2 linked regions of the Homo sapiens genome follow. The protein of the gene in region 1 purifies or fractionates together with the protein of each later gene. This does not show direct contact. Each region holds a gene or a part of one and is shown on either strand. Other genes may lie near its edges.

What was found. The genes of interacting proteins can lie anywhere in the genome.
Region 2: the proteins of AP2A1 (region 1) and RALBP1 purify together in Homo sapiens (affinity purification with mass spectrometry; 5 studies listed by BioGRID and IntAct, with this or other methods). This does not show direct contact.

What each region holds. Positions count from the first base shown.
Region 1 is NC_000019.10:49,776,990-49,784,011, forward strand, and holds part of AP2A1 (AP-2 complex subunit alpha-1), read left to right. Parts: intron 1-3,415; exon of another isoform or gene 3,416-3,603; coding exon of another isoform or gene 3,604-3,721; intron 3,722-4,767; coding exon 4,768-4,836; intron 4,837-4,957; coding exon 4,958-5,100; intron 5,101-5,541; coding exon 5,542-5,735; intron 5,736-7,022.
Region 2 is NC_000018.10:9,471,326-9,478,525, forward strand, and holds the start of RALBP1 (ralA-binding protein 1), read left to right. Parts: upstream 1-4,187; 5' UTR 4,188-4,366; intron 4,367-4,369; exon of another isoform or gene 4,370-4,961; intron 4,962-6,939; exon of another isoform or gene 6,940-7,197; intron 7,198-7,200. UniProt on the Homo sapiens protein: Multifunctional protein that functions as a downstream effector of RALA and RALB. As a GTPase-activating protein/GAP can inactivate CDC42 and RAC1 by stimulating their GTPase activity.

The sequences.
Region 1 (7,022 bases):
AGGCTGAGGCGGGTGGATCACTTGAGGTCAGAAGTTCAAAACCAGTCTGGTCAACATGGTGAAACCCTGTCTCTACTAAAAATGCGGAAAAAAAAAAAAGCCAGGTGTGGTGGTGGGTGCCTGTAATCCCAACTGCTCGGGAGGCTGAGGTAGGAGAATCGCTTGAACCTGGGAGGTGGAGGTTGCAGTGAGCCAAGATGGTGCCATTGCACTGTAGCCTGGGTGACAGAGCGAGACTCTGTCTCAAGAAAAAAAGTAAAAATAAAGCCTATTTAAAGAAAAATATACATATATATGCATATTTGTATATATATGTAAATACATTTTAAATACAATTTAAGTAATACTTTAAAAAGAGATTTCCAGCCGGGCGCGGTGGCTCATGCCTGTAATCATAGCACTTTGGGAGGCTGAGGCGGGCGGATCACCAGGTCAGGAGATTGAGACCATCCTAGCTAACATGGTGAAACCCCATCTCTACTAAATATACAAAAAATTAGCCAGGCATGGTGGCGGGCGCCTGTAGCCCCAGCTACTTGGGAGGCTGAGGCAGGAGAATGGCGTGAACCTGGGAGGCAGAGCTTGAAGTGAGCAGAGATGGTGCCACTGCACTCCATCCTGGGCGACAAAGCGAGACTCCATCACAAAAAAAAAAAAAAAGATTTCCTGGCAGTAAGCGGTGGCCCATGCCTATAATCCCAGCACTTCGGGAGGCTGAGGTGGGCGGAGGAGTTGAGACCACCCTGGGCAACATGGCAAAACCCTATCTCTACAAAAAATAGAAAAAAAATTAGCTGAGTGTGGTGGCGCACCTCACAGTCCCAGCTACCTGGGAGGCTGAGATGGGAGGGTCATTTGAGCCCAAGGGGCCAAGACTGCAGTGAGCTGAGATCAAACCATTGCATTCCAACCTCAGTGAAAGAGTGAGACCCCGTCTCAAGAAAAAGAGAGGAAATCTATATATTATAGATATAATAATATGTATTTCTTTAAATGAATACTAGTTAAAGAAATACGTAAATATAAATATATAAGTACATATGATATATATTTCTTTAAATTTAAAGAATATTTAAAGAATACATATACATGCACATATTTGTGTATATATTTAAATCATTTCAAGTACAATTGAGTGAATACACTCGTGTATTAACGATGGGGATATGTTCTGAGAAATGCATCGTTAGGTGGTTTTGTTGTGGTGTGAACATCCTGGAGTGTGCTTACACAAATTGAGATGGTATAGCCCACCACTCACTGAGGCTCTGTGGCGCAGCTTGTTGCTGCTGGGCTGTAAACCTGCACAGTGGCCAGGCGTGGTGGCTTACACCTGTAATCCCAGCACTTTGGGAGGCTGAGGCAGGCAGATCACTTGAGGTCAGGAGTTTGAGACCAGCCTGGCCAACGTGGTGAAACCTCGTCTCTACTAAAAATACACTAATTAGCTGGGTGTGGTGACGCATGCCTGTCATCCCAGCTACTCAGGAGGCTGAGGTAGGAGAATCACTTGAACCCAGGAGGCGGAGGTTGCAGTGAGCTGAGATCACGCCATTGCTCTCCAGCCTGGGCGACAAGAGTGAAACTGCGTCTCAAGATAAAACAAAAAAACCTGCACAGCATGGGACTGTCCTGTAGGCAACCGTGACTCAGTAAGTATTTGTGCATCTAAACATAGAAAAGGAGCAGTCGAAATAAGGCATTAGAATCGTATGGAACCACTGCAGTGTGTGCGGTTTGTTGCTGACTGAAATGTTGATATGCGGGGCAGGACTGTATTGAAATAATACATATTATTTAAATTAAGTAATACATATATTTAAATAACACATATTCTTTAAATATGTGTATACTCTTTATATATACTATATTTATGGTATGCATATGTATATATACGTATTTATGACAAAACCATATATATATAGGCCAGGCATGGTGGCTCATACCTGTAATCCCAGCACTTTGGGTGGCTGAGGCAGGTGGATCACTTGAAGTCAGGAGTTCGAGATCAGCCTGGGCAACATAGTAAGACCTCATTGCTACCAAAAAAAAAAAAAAAAATTAGGGCTGGGCGAAGTGGCTCACTCCTGTAATCCCAACACTTTGAGAGGCCAATGTGGGCAGATCACGAGGTCAGGAGATTGAGACCATGCTGGCTAACATGCTGAAACCCCATCTCTACTAAAAATACAAAAAATTAGCTAGGGGTGGGTGGCAGGCGCCTGTAGTCCCAGCTACTTGGGAGGCTGAGGCAGGACAATTGCTTGAACCTGGGAGGCAGAGGTTGCAGTGAGCTGAAATTGCGCCACTGCACTCCAGCCTGGGTGACACAGTGAGACTCCGTCTCAAAAAAAAAAAAAAAAAAAAATTAGTTGAATGTGGTGTTATGCACCTGTAGTCCCAGCGACTTTGGAGGCTGAGGCACAAGAATCACTGAACCCAGGAGGCAGAGGTTGCAGTGAGCCGAGATTGCACCACTGCACTCCAGCCTGGGCTACAAAAAAAAAAAAAAAAAAAAAAAACAGAAACAGGCAAAATTAATTTTAATAATATGTCTCTATAACCCAGTACACCCAAATTATTATTTCAGCATGTGATCAATACTTTATAATTTGTATTGTTTTATTTAGTTGACACACAAGTTCTCACTGTGTTGTCCAGGCTGGTCTCCAACTCCTGGGCTCAAGCCATCCTCCTGCCTCACATGCGTGAGCCACCACGCCTAGCCCCTATAATTTTTACTGAAATATTTTACATTTTTTCTCCACACTGTCTTCTAAATCCCGTGTATGTTTGCTGTTGACAGCCCCTCTCAGTTTGGAATGGCCACATTTCAGGATCTCAGGAGCCACTGGCTGGCAACTGCTATATTGGATGGTGCAGCGCTAGGGTCCTCTTAGCACTGATCAGGAGGTGCTAATCAGAGGGGCTTCCTGGAGGAGGTGATACCTGAAGTGAGGCTTATGGGAGCTTCCATAGAAGTTGGGAGCAGGGACAAGACAGGATTTCTAGAGAGAAGGATGGCACATATACTTGCTTTCTCAGTCATTGACTCATTTGTTGAATGCACACCCCACCCTGCTGGGGACTACGCCCTGAAGGATGTGGGTCAGAGCAGATCTCTGCCCCTTCCATAACTAGACATTTATAGAGCACCTGCTGTATGCAGGGCACTGCTCTAGGAGCTCCCTCCTGATGCTTACAGTCTGAAGTGGGAGGAAGTTCGACAGTGGAGAGAAATAAAATTGTGACATGGTGAAATGTACCAGAGAGGACTTCTTGAAAAATAACTCTTTAAGCAGAATAATAAAGAATTGACTTTAAGGAAGTGAAACGGAACGGCCTTTCAGGGGTGGCAGGAGCCGAGACCCAAATGATGGGAAGATGACAGGGGAGGGGTGGCCCCAGGAAGAGGGCACAGCTTGTGTGAAGGCCCTTGAGGCAAGAGGATGTGCGTGTTCCCGGAGCAAAATGGAGGCCAGGGGGCCTGGATGGACAGTAGGGGTCTGAGGGGTGACACCGGCAGGGTTGCTGTGACAGGGGCAGAGGACTTGATGGGCCGTGGAGTGGAGCACCCCCAGCTGGCATCACAGAGCCCAGGATATGGAAACACGAGGGAGGCAAGAAGGCTGGAGGGGAGGCTGCTTCACTGACCTGAGCGAGCGAGCATGGGATCTGGATGAAGTGGTCATCGTGGAGGTGCTCAAGACATGTTCTGAAGGTCAAGTTAGGAGGAGGTGGCTGGGCACAGTGGCTCATACCTGTAATCCCAGCATTTTGGGAGGCTGAGGTGGGAGGATCGCTGGATCCCAGGAGTTTAAGGTCACAGTGAGCTATGATTGCACCACTGCACTGCAGCCTGGGCGACAGTCTAAGACCCTGTCTCAAAAATTAAAAGGACGAGGCAGTAGCCCGATTGGCGTGAGGATGTCCAGGTTCTGTTTGGAGGAGAAGAGGGAACGGTAGAACCTGTCAAGGGAGGGATGAAGTCTGGGGTGAGTGGAACAGGGACAGGAGAAGCAGAGAGGGCAGCCGAGAGCATCCAGTCGGATTGTGCTCTGAAGGGGGTGCTGTAGGGCATTGAGGAGCATGGAGGAAGCAGAGACCTGGCCTGCAGGATCAGGGGAGGCTTTCTGTGCTTATTCCACAAGCAGGTCCTGTCAGAGGTGTAGGAATGTCCCAGACAAATTGGGGAGAGGTTGGCAGCCAGAGAACAGGAGGCAGTGGGGACAGGCCACGCGGGAGAGGACAAAGCCATGGCTGTGGGGACAAAGGGGGTGAGGACAGCACCCAAGGGTCTGACCTGGTGACTGGGTGGACAGTGGGACCTTCATGGGATTGAGAACTGGAAGAGGCAGTGAGCTCAGTGGTAGGGGTGAGCACCCTGCGGCCAGCCAAGCTCTTTATTCATTCATTCATTCATCACATGTTCATCGCATGTGGGGAGTGGGGACAGGAGCTCTCAGGGAGCGTGTCTGGGGCCCTGAGGAGCCCCACAAATCAGGGGCCACAGTGGTAGGAGGAAGGAGAGAGGAAGTCAGGGACAGCCCAAGGGTGTGTGCTCTGTGCTGTGGGGCTCAGCCAGCGGTGGTTCTTCCCTCTTTGAAACTCCCAGCCAGAGAAGGGGTCCTGGCCTGTCCTGAGCCCCAGGGCTTGGGGGCGGAGAAGATCTGCCCTTCCTGCTGGGTGGGGCCGCGCCTAGGAAAGAGAGGGCAGGTGGCTGACTCCCCAGACCCCTCACTGCCTACCCTCCTCCTCCTCTCCCAGGTAAGAGCAAAGAGGCGGAAATTAAGAGAATCAACAAGGAACTGGCCAACATCCGCTCCAAGTTCAAAGGTAGGCTGGGGGCCCAACTTCTGGTTCTGAGGGAGGAGGGGGCTGGGAGCTGGGGCTCCTGTGACCTATCCTGTGACCCTTCCTTATTTCTGGCTCCCCTTTCCTCCTTCCTCTGCCCTAGGAGACAAAGCCTTGGATGGCTACAGTAAGAAAAAATATGTGTGTAAACTGCTTTTCATCTTCCTGCTTGGCCATGACATTGACTTTGGGCACATGGAGGCTGTGAATCTGTTGAGTTCCAATAAATACACAGAGAAGCAAATAGTGAGTCTGGAGAGGGGGGTGCCAGGGCCTGGACTCCTGGGTCTGCGGGGGAGGGGGCTGGAGGTCTGGACTCCTGGATCTGGGGGAGGAGGGGGTCTAGGGGTCTGGACTCCTGGGTATGAGGGAGGAGGGGGTCTGGGGCTCTGGACTGCTGGGTCTGAGGGAGGAGGGGGCTGGGGGTCTGGACTCCCCATTCTGAGGGAGGAGGGCTGGAAGCCCAGACTCCTGGGTCTGAGGGTTGAATCTGGGGCCTGGACTCGTGGGTCTGAGGGAGGAGGGGCCTGGGGGCCTGGACTTGTGGGTCTGAGGGAGGAGGGGCCTGGGGGCCTGGACTCCTGGGTCTGAGGTTGAATCTGGGGCCTGGACTCCTGGGTCTGAGGGTTGGATCTGGGGCCACTCAGTCACAAGGCTCCTAGCCATCCACGACCTCCCTCCCCACAGGGTTACCTGTTCATTTCTGTGCTGGTGAACTCGAACTCGGAGCTGATCCGCCTCATCAACAACGCCATCAAGAATGACCTGGCCAGCCGCAACCCCACCTTCATGTGCCTGGCCCTGCACTGCATCGCCAACGTGGGCAGCCGGGAGATGGGCGAGGCCTTTGCCGCTGACATCCCCCGCATCCTGGTGGCCGGGTAAGGCACTGGGGACCCGTTGGCAGTGGGGGGCCTGGGGGTGATGAGTCCCAGCCAAGTGTGAGGCTCAGAGAGGCTCTGTTGCCTGCCCAAGGTCTCCCAGCCGAGATGTGGGCTAACGCTGGGCTGGGGACCCAGTGGTTCCGGTGGCAGCCCCATACTTGTCTCTTCCCGTGATACGAAGCTGACTTGATGGTGTGAGGCTGCTCCCGGCAAAGCCAGTGGGGTGTTTCTGAACTGCAGAATTCTAACACCTACGATAAGAGGCGTAACTGTGCTATGTGGGTGACGGCCCTCCAGAACTTCCTCATCTTCTCCATTCATTCACCAAACATTTACTGAGCACATACTATGTGCCAGGCACTGTGCTGATTGCTGGGGATGTTGTATTGTCCAGAGATGGACACGGTCATTGCCCTCCTGTGTTCATGGTCTGGAGCAGGAGACAAATGGTGATGGAAGAATTGCAGGATGAAGTGTAGAATTTGCCAGGTGCGATGGCTCATGTAATCGCTGCATTTGGGGAGGCTGAGGCAGGTAGATTGCTTGAGTCTAGGAGTTTGAGACCAGCCTGGGCAACATGGCAAAATCCCAATCTCTACTAAAAATACCAAAAATTGCCAGGGCATGGTGGCGTGCACCTATAGTCCCAGCTACTCGGGAAGCTGAGGTGGGAGGATCTCCTGAGCTGGGGAGGCCTAGGCTGCAATGAGTTGTGGTTGCGCCAGTGTACTCCAGCTTGGTGTGCACACAGGTGAGACTTCTATTTCTGGCAGTGTGGTCAGCTAGATACCCGACTCATGTTCTCCCTGAAACCTAACTGTCAATATTGGATAAAAGAGGAAAGACAATATTATTTAATGGATTCATGAGGTAGCCAGAAAATGAGGAGCACACAGGCCACAAGCTAAGAGAAGCCGGGCACCCAAGCAGATGAGCCGCGTGCTGGAGCCAGCATTTGCTTAGAAGGCATTTGCTGAACTGGGTGAACCCGAGTATCGGTTTTGGGGCCCTGCAGCCTCTGGGAACAGAAGACAAAGCTTGTCCGAGAAGTTCTCGAAGGCTGTACTTCAAAGTGAGAGTGACCTAGAAATAAACCCCCTTGGGGACTATGAGGAAAATTACCTGTCTGAAACGTTGGCACGGAGCAGCCCTCAGACTGGTTTTCAGCCTGACTTTACCCTATCTGGGTAGTCCAAAAGCCCCTAAGTCAACCTTTAGTTTAAAGTGATGGAAACTGGAGGTTCCCTAGTGCTTCACAGAAGCAAACACGAGCCTTTTCTGAGG
Region 2 (7,200 bases), on another chromosome or scaffold:
TTTTCCCTGCCCCGCCCCAAGTCCCCAAAGTCCACTATATCATTCTTATGCCTTTGCATTCTCATAGCTTAGCTCCCAAGTATAAGTGAGAACACACGGTATTTGGTTTTCCATTCCTGAGTTGCTTCATTTAGAATAATGGCCTCCAGCTTCACCCAAGTTGCTGCAAAAGACTATTTCATTCCTTTTTATGGCTGTGTAGTATTTCATGGTATATATATATATATATTATATATATTATAATAATATATGATATATCATATATATTATATATATTATATAAGATATTATATATATATCACATTTTCTTTACCCACTCATTGGTTGATGGACACCCAGGTTGGTTCTATATCTTTTGAATTGCAAATTGTGCTGCTATAAACATGTGTGTGCATATGTTTTTCATATAATGACTTCTTTTCCTTTGCATAGATACCCAATAGTGGGATTGCTGGATCAAATGGTAGTTCTACTTTTAGTTGTTTAAGGAAACTCCATACTGTTTTCCATAGTGGTTGTACTAGTTTACATTCCCTGTTTTTTCTTTTTCTATTTAAAGCTACAGTCTATGTCCTTGAGTCTGGCTTATTGCTAAAAATATCCTCTTTTTTATGGATGTGTCATTATAGCTCTTCTTTTACTTCATTTTTCTGTTTTTTGAATACGATAATTTCTCTATCTTCAAGTACACCTTTTTTGCCATCTCAAATCTTTCACTGAGATTATGTAATACAATTTATATTTCTCTTCTATATTTTTCAACTCTAGAAATTTCATTTTTATAGAATCATTTCCCTATTGATATCCTTTATATGTTAAAGAATTATCATTATATTTTCCTTTAATTCTTTGAAAAATGTTTACTTTTTAAAACATAATTATAAGACCTACTTTCAAGAGTTTGCTTCTGAATCCAGTATTTGAGCCCAATGGGTCTGTTTCTATTGGTTGCTATTTTCTTCCTCAGAGTGGGTGACACTTTACTGTTTCTTTGCATAAACCATGATTGTTGGTTGAAAAGCAGATATTTCATATATTGCAGCAATTCTAGATGTTTTATTTTTCTTAGTTTTGTTGTTGTTGTTGTTGTTGTTTTATCTTCCTGGATTTACACAGATTTAAAATCTGTCTCTATATGGCCTGTGGCTGCTGGTATCTTTGCTCTGTTTTTCAATTCACATTTTTATATTTACCCTGACTTTCTGGGCTTTGTCCCTGTGTTTGCATAGCTGTGGCTAGTCAATGATTTGGCAGTGGTTGCACTCAAACACCTTGATTTGGGAGTCTTCTTCCCTCTGCTAATGGATCTGTGTGTGGATTAAGGAATACATTCACAGTTGCCACCAGTTCTCAAGTCTCCCTTGGATTTACTTAACAGGTCTCTTGGGTCAACCCCAGGCAGATGCATAGTTTCCCAATCAGTCAGAGATGTGTGGAGATGTAATTAACAAATAGAGTATTTCTGTGGGGAAGTAGACTCTATAAAAAAGGATGATATTTCTAGAGTTGAAAAGTACAGGCTGGAGTGAGGTGGTGTGACCATAACTCTTCAATGACTCTTATTTCTAAAATCTCCCTGTTATATTTTTGACTGGCTTGCCATTTGCCCCACCTGGGACTGTAACCTCAGGTAAGCACAGCTGTGGGTTTGCCCTGTTCATTTCCATATGAGTTTGTCACTTTTAGTTGGCAAAGCCTTGGGTTTTTGACCACCCGCCCCAAATTGAGTCCATCCCTTTGGCAGCAAAGCTGCTAGTTTTCTTGGCTATTCCTACCCACACTGGCAAAACTGCAGTTCTGGTGCAACAGGGTGGGAGAGAAGCAGCCTCAGGCCAGAAGGCCACAGACATCTACTGTCCCTGCTAGCTGTTTCTGAAGAATAGATGTTTCTCAAATTGTTTTCTGTATTTGTTTGATTTCCAGTGCTCTGAAATGGTTGTTTTTGCCAATTTATCCAATTTTATACTGGTTTTGTGTGCAGAGAATTGCTGACTATGCCACACAGACATAGCTAAAAGTCCCTTCCACAGTTTTTTACGTAGGAACCTGTATTAGTTAGGACCTTTCAGAGTCATGTAAAAGAAATTCAACTGAATTAGTTAGGACTTTTAGAATTTTAATATGAACTGGCTTAAACAGTACAGGAAATTTGTGGTTCACAATTCTGGATAGTCTGTAAGATGGCCTTGCTCACAATCCCGAATAGTCTATAGGATAGTCCATAGAATCAAACAGGTGAGGTTTGATACTGCAGCTCAAATCATGCCACCAAACACAAGGTTCTTCTCCATCTTTCCCGCATTCATTTGACAGTACTGACTTCAACCCCAGGCTCTACTTGTTGCTGTCCCTCTAAACTCCCATCCCTCTAGGGTTTCCCCTTATAGGAGGAAAACGGTTGCCACATTTCCAGGCATCATATACTTACACCATGCTAGAGGAGCAAGGAAGCTACAGTTTACTGGAAGCCTCAGCCCCAGTCTTTGTGGGTTCATTGTTTCTGACTGGGCTTGTGACCATCTCTGCTGCTAGAGGGAATGGTTATGTTGCCTGGCTTAAATGGAAGGAATAAATGCTCAAGTGGCAGCCAACAAATACATTCAATATCCACACATATTGGCTCCAAATAATAAATCAATGAATGAGTGGGCTCACCCACTTAGGCTCACATGCTCACAGCACTTAAAGAGCTCCACAAACCATGCCCTCCAAATGAAACCACGGTCTACATTCTGCCAGCTCTTTCTCCCTTTCCATTTCTCCTTTCTTCTCTTTCACACCCTCACCTTTGGCTAGGCCACTCGATGTTGCAAGAAACACGTCCATCAGCAATTGCCTCAGTAGAAAACTCCCTCTGCTCCCCTCCTGCATCCACATAGCAGCTTCAGGCAAGGCCTCCATAAGGCCCAGCGTGGATCAGTGCCTGCCCCTTGGCCGAATCAGTGCTGTCACAGGCAGAGAATTGTCACTGCCATGCTCACCTGCCCAACCCAGTGGTCAGAGAAGACTGTTCTACTGCGAGAGGAGCCATGAGAAGGCTTTTCCGAAAGTCAAAGACCAATGGCTACCTCAGACCATCCCGTATCCACTCGTGGGAGGCCCCTGAATGAATCTAAGGCCCCAGGGGTTGAACTTTACTGAGTAGGGAGCGCAGAGTACTAGGGACAAATTTACCGCCCGCTTTGAGGAAAGCTGATGTGGGAGCAGAGAGCAAGATGGATAGCAGCGGCCAATCTAAACGGGCAACGAAGTGCCACAGAGTGCTGCACGTAGGAATGCGAGTGACAGGTAGGGTCGTCTATTCCAAGTCCCTCCTCTCCCCTAATAAACTGCCACATTTCAGAAAACACGAAGACTGCTGAAGCCGTTTCCAGCCTTCGCTACGCATTAGCAGAGCAACTCAACAAGCCTGGGTGAAAGGCTTCTCGAAGAAATTCAGTTATCTCTACTGCCAGCCAAACACGGACTGGGCAGCTTTCCTCGGGGGCTGCTCGGTAACTGCTGAGCCGGGGGCGCGCTGAAGCCCTGCAGAAGCCCACACCCGCTTCAGGAATTCCGTGGATGTTCCCGACAGAGGTTTATTCCCGCCTATCCCTACAGGCCCACGGCGCTCTTTCCTCCAATCCCACACCCAGTCGAAGGCGGGGCAGCCGCCCCACCCAGCGGCCAGCCGGGCGGCCCCCAGTCTGGTTTAACTGGTTGGAACGACTAAAGCACGCTGGCGCAAGGAAAGCTCTCAACTTCGGGAGCTGAGGCGCAGGCTGGCCAGAGCGTGGAGAGGAAAGCCCTTTCCATCCTCAAGGCCGTTGCAGGAGATGCCCGCGAGCCACCTTCGCCAGCACCACACCGGGGTAAGCCGTCCGTCCCCGAAACCCGCAAGGCCACCGACTGCGCAGGCGCCTGCAGAGCACTGGCCCTCGGCGCGTTCTCTCGCGCTCTTCTTCAGTCTCCTCAGCGAGCCTGGGGACGAAGGGGGCGCGGTGCCTCCTGGGTGTTGTAGTTTGCTTCCTTGGCGAGAGGCCTTCGGGCTGGCTGGACGCCGGGGCCTTGGGAACTACGCCTCCCAGCGCGCCCCGCGCGAGAGCCCAGGTCGCCTGCCCTTGACGGCTTCAGCCGTCTGAGCGGAGAGGAGGATCCGGGAAGCCGGCTGCGGCGGGAGGAGGGAATGCGCGTGCGCGCTGGACCGCCTCGTCCCGTTCCGTCCCAATCATTGTAAACAGGCAGAGGCTGGGCGGGGTGGGAATGGGGCGCCCGAGGCCGGCCTGGGGCGCAGCGCAGGAGGCGGCTCCGGTGGCTGCGGCGGCAGCGTGAGCGCGAGGAGGCGGAGGCTGCGGCGGGGCGGACGGTCGCGCGGCGGCAGGCACAGGTCAGTCGCAGGGAGCGGTCGCGTGCTAGGGTCGCGGCGATACCCCTGGAGTGCCCGAGGAACCCTCTCCCGCGCCGGCCTCGCGCCCGCGTCTGTCAGGCAGCGTGTGGGGCTCGGTGCTCGCAGCGCTCGGGTTTGAAGTTGGGGGTGGGGGGCGTGGCTGCCCCTGGCGTGGGTTCCTCCCCGGAAAGCTTCGCCCCAGTTTTCGCCCCCCTTGGCCGTGCGTCCCTCCCACTGGCCGACGGGCCTCCCTTCGTGGCGTCCTCGTTTGTGGTGCTCTCGGGGGCCGGGGGTGGAGAGTTAGGAGTCCCCAGGCCTCGGGGAAGCTCTTGGGGGGCGCCTGGACAGAGGCTAGGGGACCCAGCCCTCACGGTTGGTGGATCGTGCCCGGCATAGTGGCCAGGCTCCAGGGCTTACCCAGGGGACCAGGACAGGCTCCTGGTGTCGCCCACCGCTGGCACTGAGCAGTGGGCGCCTTTGGGTGCTGCGATCCTTCCTTCAGGTTTCAGTGGGAATGGACAGACAGATCTGAAGTTGAAAATTCTTTTCACAACTCATGTTCAACTATGTGTGTTGTCAGAATGCTCTTAATGAGGTCAGTGTTCTCCCTCTTTTTTTTAAAACTGATCGTTGTGAGAGTGAAACAGGTTTTACAGAATATTTAACACCTCCGTCTTCCCTGAAGTAATTCTGCTGTTTCAAGTTTTGGGATTCAGTATTACAAAGCCTTCCTCTTGAGCAAGGCCTAGTACAATTCTTCAAGGTCCCTAGCATGTTAATTCGAGGTGTTTTGAACGTGCATATACAGGAAGTGCAGCCGTTTGGCCGTTGAGTTAGTGCTCCATCCAGCCTTGTTAGAAAAGCTTTCGCTGAATTTTTAATTTAGTGGAGTGGTCATGTTCTAATGCTGCAGTACTTTGGGGAGTATTCCATTATACTTGGCAGTTATTAACGAAATACTGAACTTGTGATAAGGTTTTGTTTTGGTGCTCAGCATTTCTAAATGAATAAGTGGGACTGTGAATAAGAAAGATCACCTCACTTTCTGTTTTTAGAGTTATTGTGGTCATTTGATAACTCCTTTCTGTCTTTGTGAAAATAATTACTGTAAGCTGGAGTGGCGGTAGTAGGGGTAGGAAGGAGGTCAGTAGAGTGGTTTCCACCTCTCATTCAAAGTATCTGGTAGATCCAAGTGGGGTAGGTTAGTTAACAGTAGCTTTTTTTTTTTTTTTTTAGTTTTTTATTTTTTGAGACAGAGTTTCGCTCTTGTTGCCCAGGTTGGAGTGCAATGGCATGATCTCAGCTCACCACAGCCTCTGCCTCCTGGGTTCAAACGATTCTGCTGCCTCAGCCTCCTGAGGGGATTACAGGCATGCGCCATCACGCCCGGCTAATTTTATATTTTTAGTAGAGACATTTTCTCCATGTTGGTCAGGCTGGTCTTGAACTCCCGACCTCAGGTGATCTGCCCGCCTAGGCCTCCCAAAGCGCTGGGATTACAGGCGTGTGCCACCGCGCCCTGCCAACAGTAGTAGCTTTTGAGAAGTGACTCTTTAAACAAGGTATCTCGAAACAATGTAATACAACTTAGTTTGCTTTCTCTTCAGGATATTGTTTCTAATTATGGATCTTATCCAGACTATTTCTCCCCTAATTTAGAATAGGAAAGTGGTATCAGAAAGTGCATAATAACTTTAATTTGTACAGTTATATTTGCATAGTTGTTTGCTTGGCAAGAAGAGATCGGGCCCAGCATGTAACCCAAAAGAATATTGTTTCTGTTTTGAAAGATCCCTGATAGAAACTTATGTTAGTTTGTATAAGAGGGTACAAGGAAAAATGCAGATTATTTAGAATACAGGAATTACTATGTAGAAAGTACTGTGACCAGGTGAAGAGGACTTAAAGATACAGAAGGCAGTGTTCCTGCCTTCAGGGTAGTTGAACCTTATCTCTTACTTTAACTGTCAACAAGTACAAGATTGTTTTGATTGAAGAACATATGCGGGTACAGTGGATGTACAAAGGAGATAGTGGTCAGTTTCTTAAAGTGAAGAAAAGAGCTGAAGAAGAGGGAAACTGTAAGGAAAAACTATGTAGAAGGTGATGAAAATCAGGAGTGTACAGGCATAGAAAGAATGGGCATTTAGGTAGAAGGAGCAGTGTGAGAAAAAGCATGGGAGTCTAAAATTAGAGAGTAGCATCTGCAAAAATAGCAAGTATAATACAGGGTGGTGGCAAGACCTGAAACTGGGGAGATAGGCAGAGACCAAATTATGGATCTTGCAGACCATCAGAATAATTACAATTTTATTTTATAAGCAAATAGGAGTCATTGAGAGGACAAAGAAGAGACCTAAGCCAGCTCAGCCCATTTTTAACCCTCTGCTATAGGTCAGGCACTGTATTAGGTACTGTATATTTTATGTCCTTAAGCTTAAAGAAGGCTTAGTCATGACTAATGCAGAAATTGGGGGGCTAGGGCAGGGATGGGGAAGGAACTTTTAGAGGGAAAGGTGGGCAGAAACGTAGGTGAGAAAGAACATGGAACACTTTTTTTTTTCCCAATACAGACACCATCACTCAGTTTTATTGGTTTTGTCTTATTAGCCTCTGAAGTAGGCAATTATTGGTGTGAACATACATTTTGAAAAACATCTGGAGTCAAGAGTGCACGAGTGTCAACTCAGTGCAAGTACTGTTGGTAAGCATTATGTCCCGAGGATGAAATCGGAGGACCAACAGGCCCAGGAGGCTTCACAGCGAACACCACATGCCTCGCGCCCAAAAGGACAGCAGACCGCGCTTCAGAACGGAACCGCCTTCTCCATGTA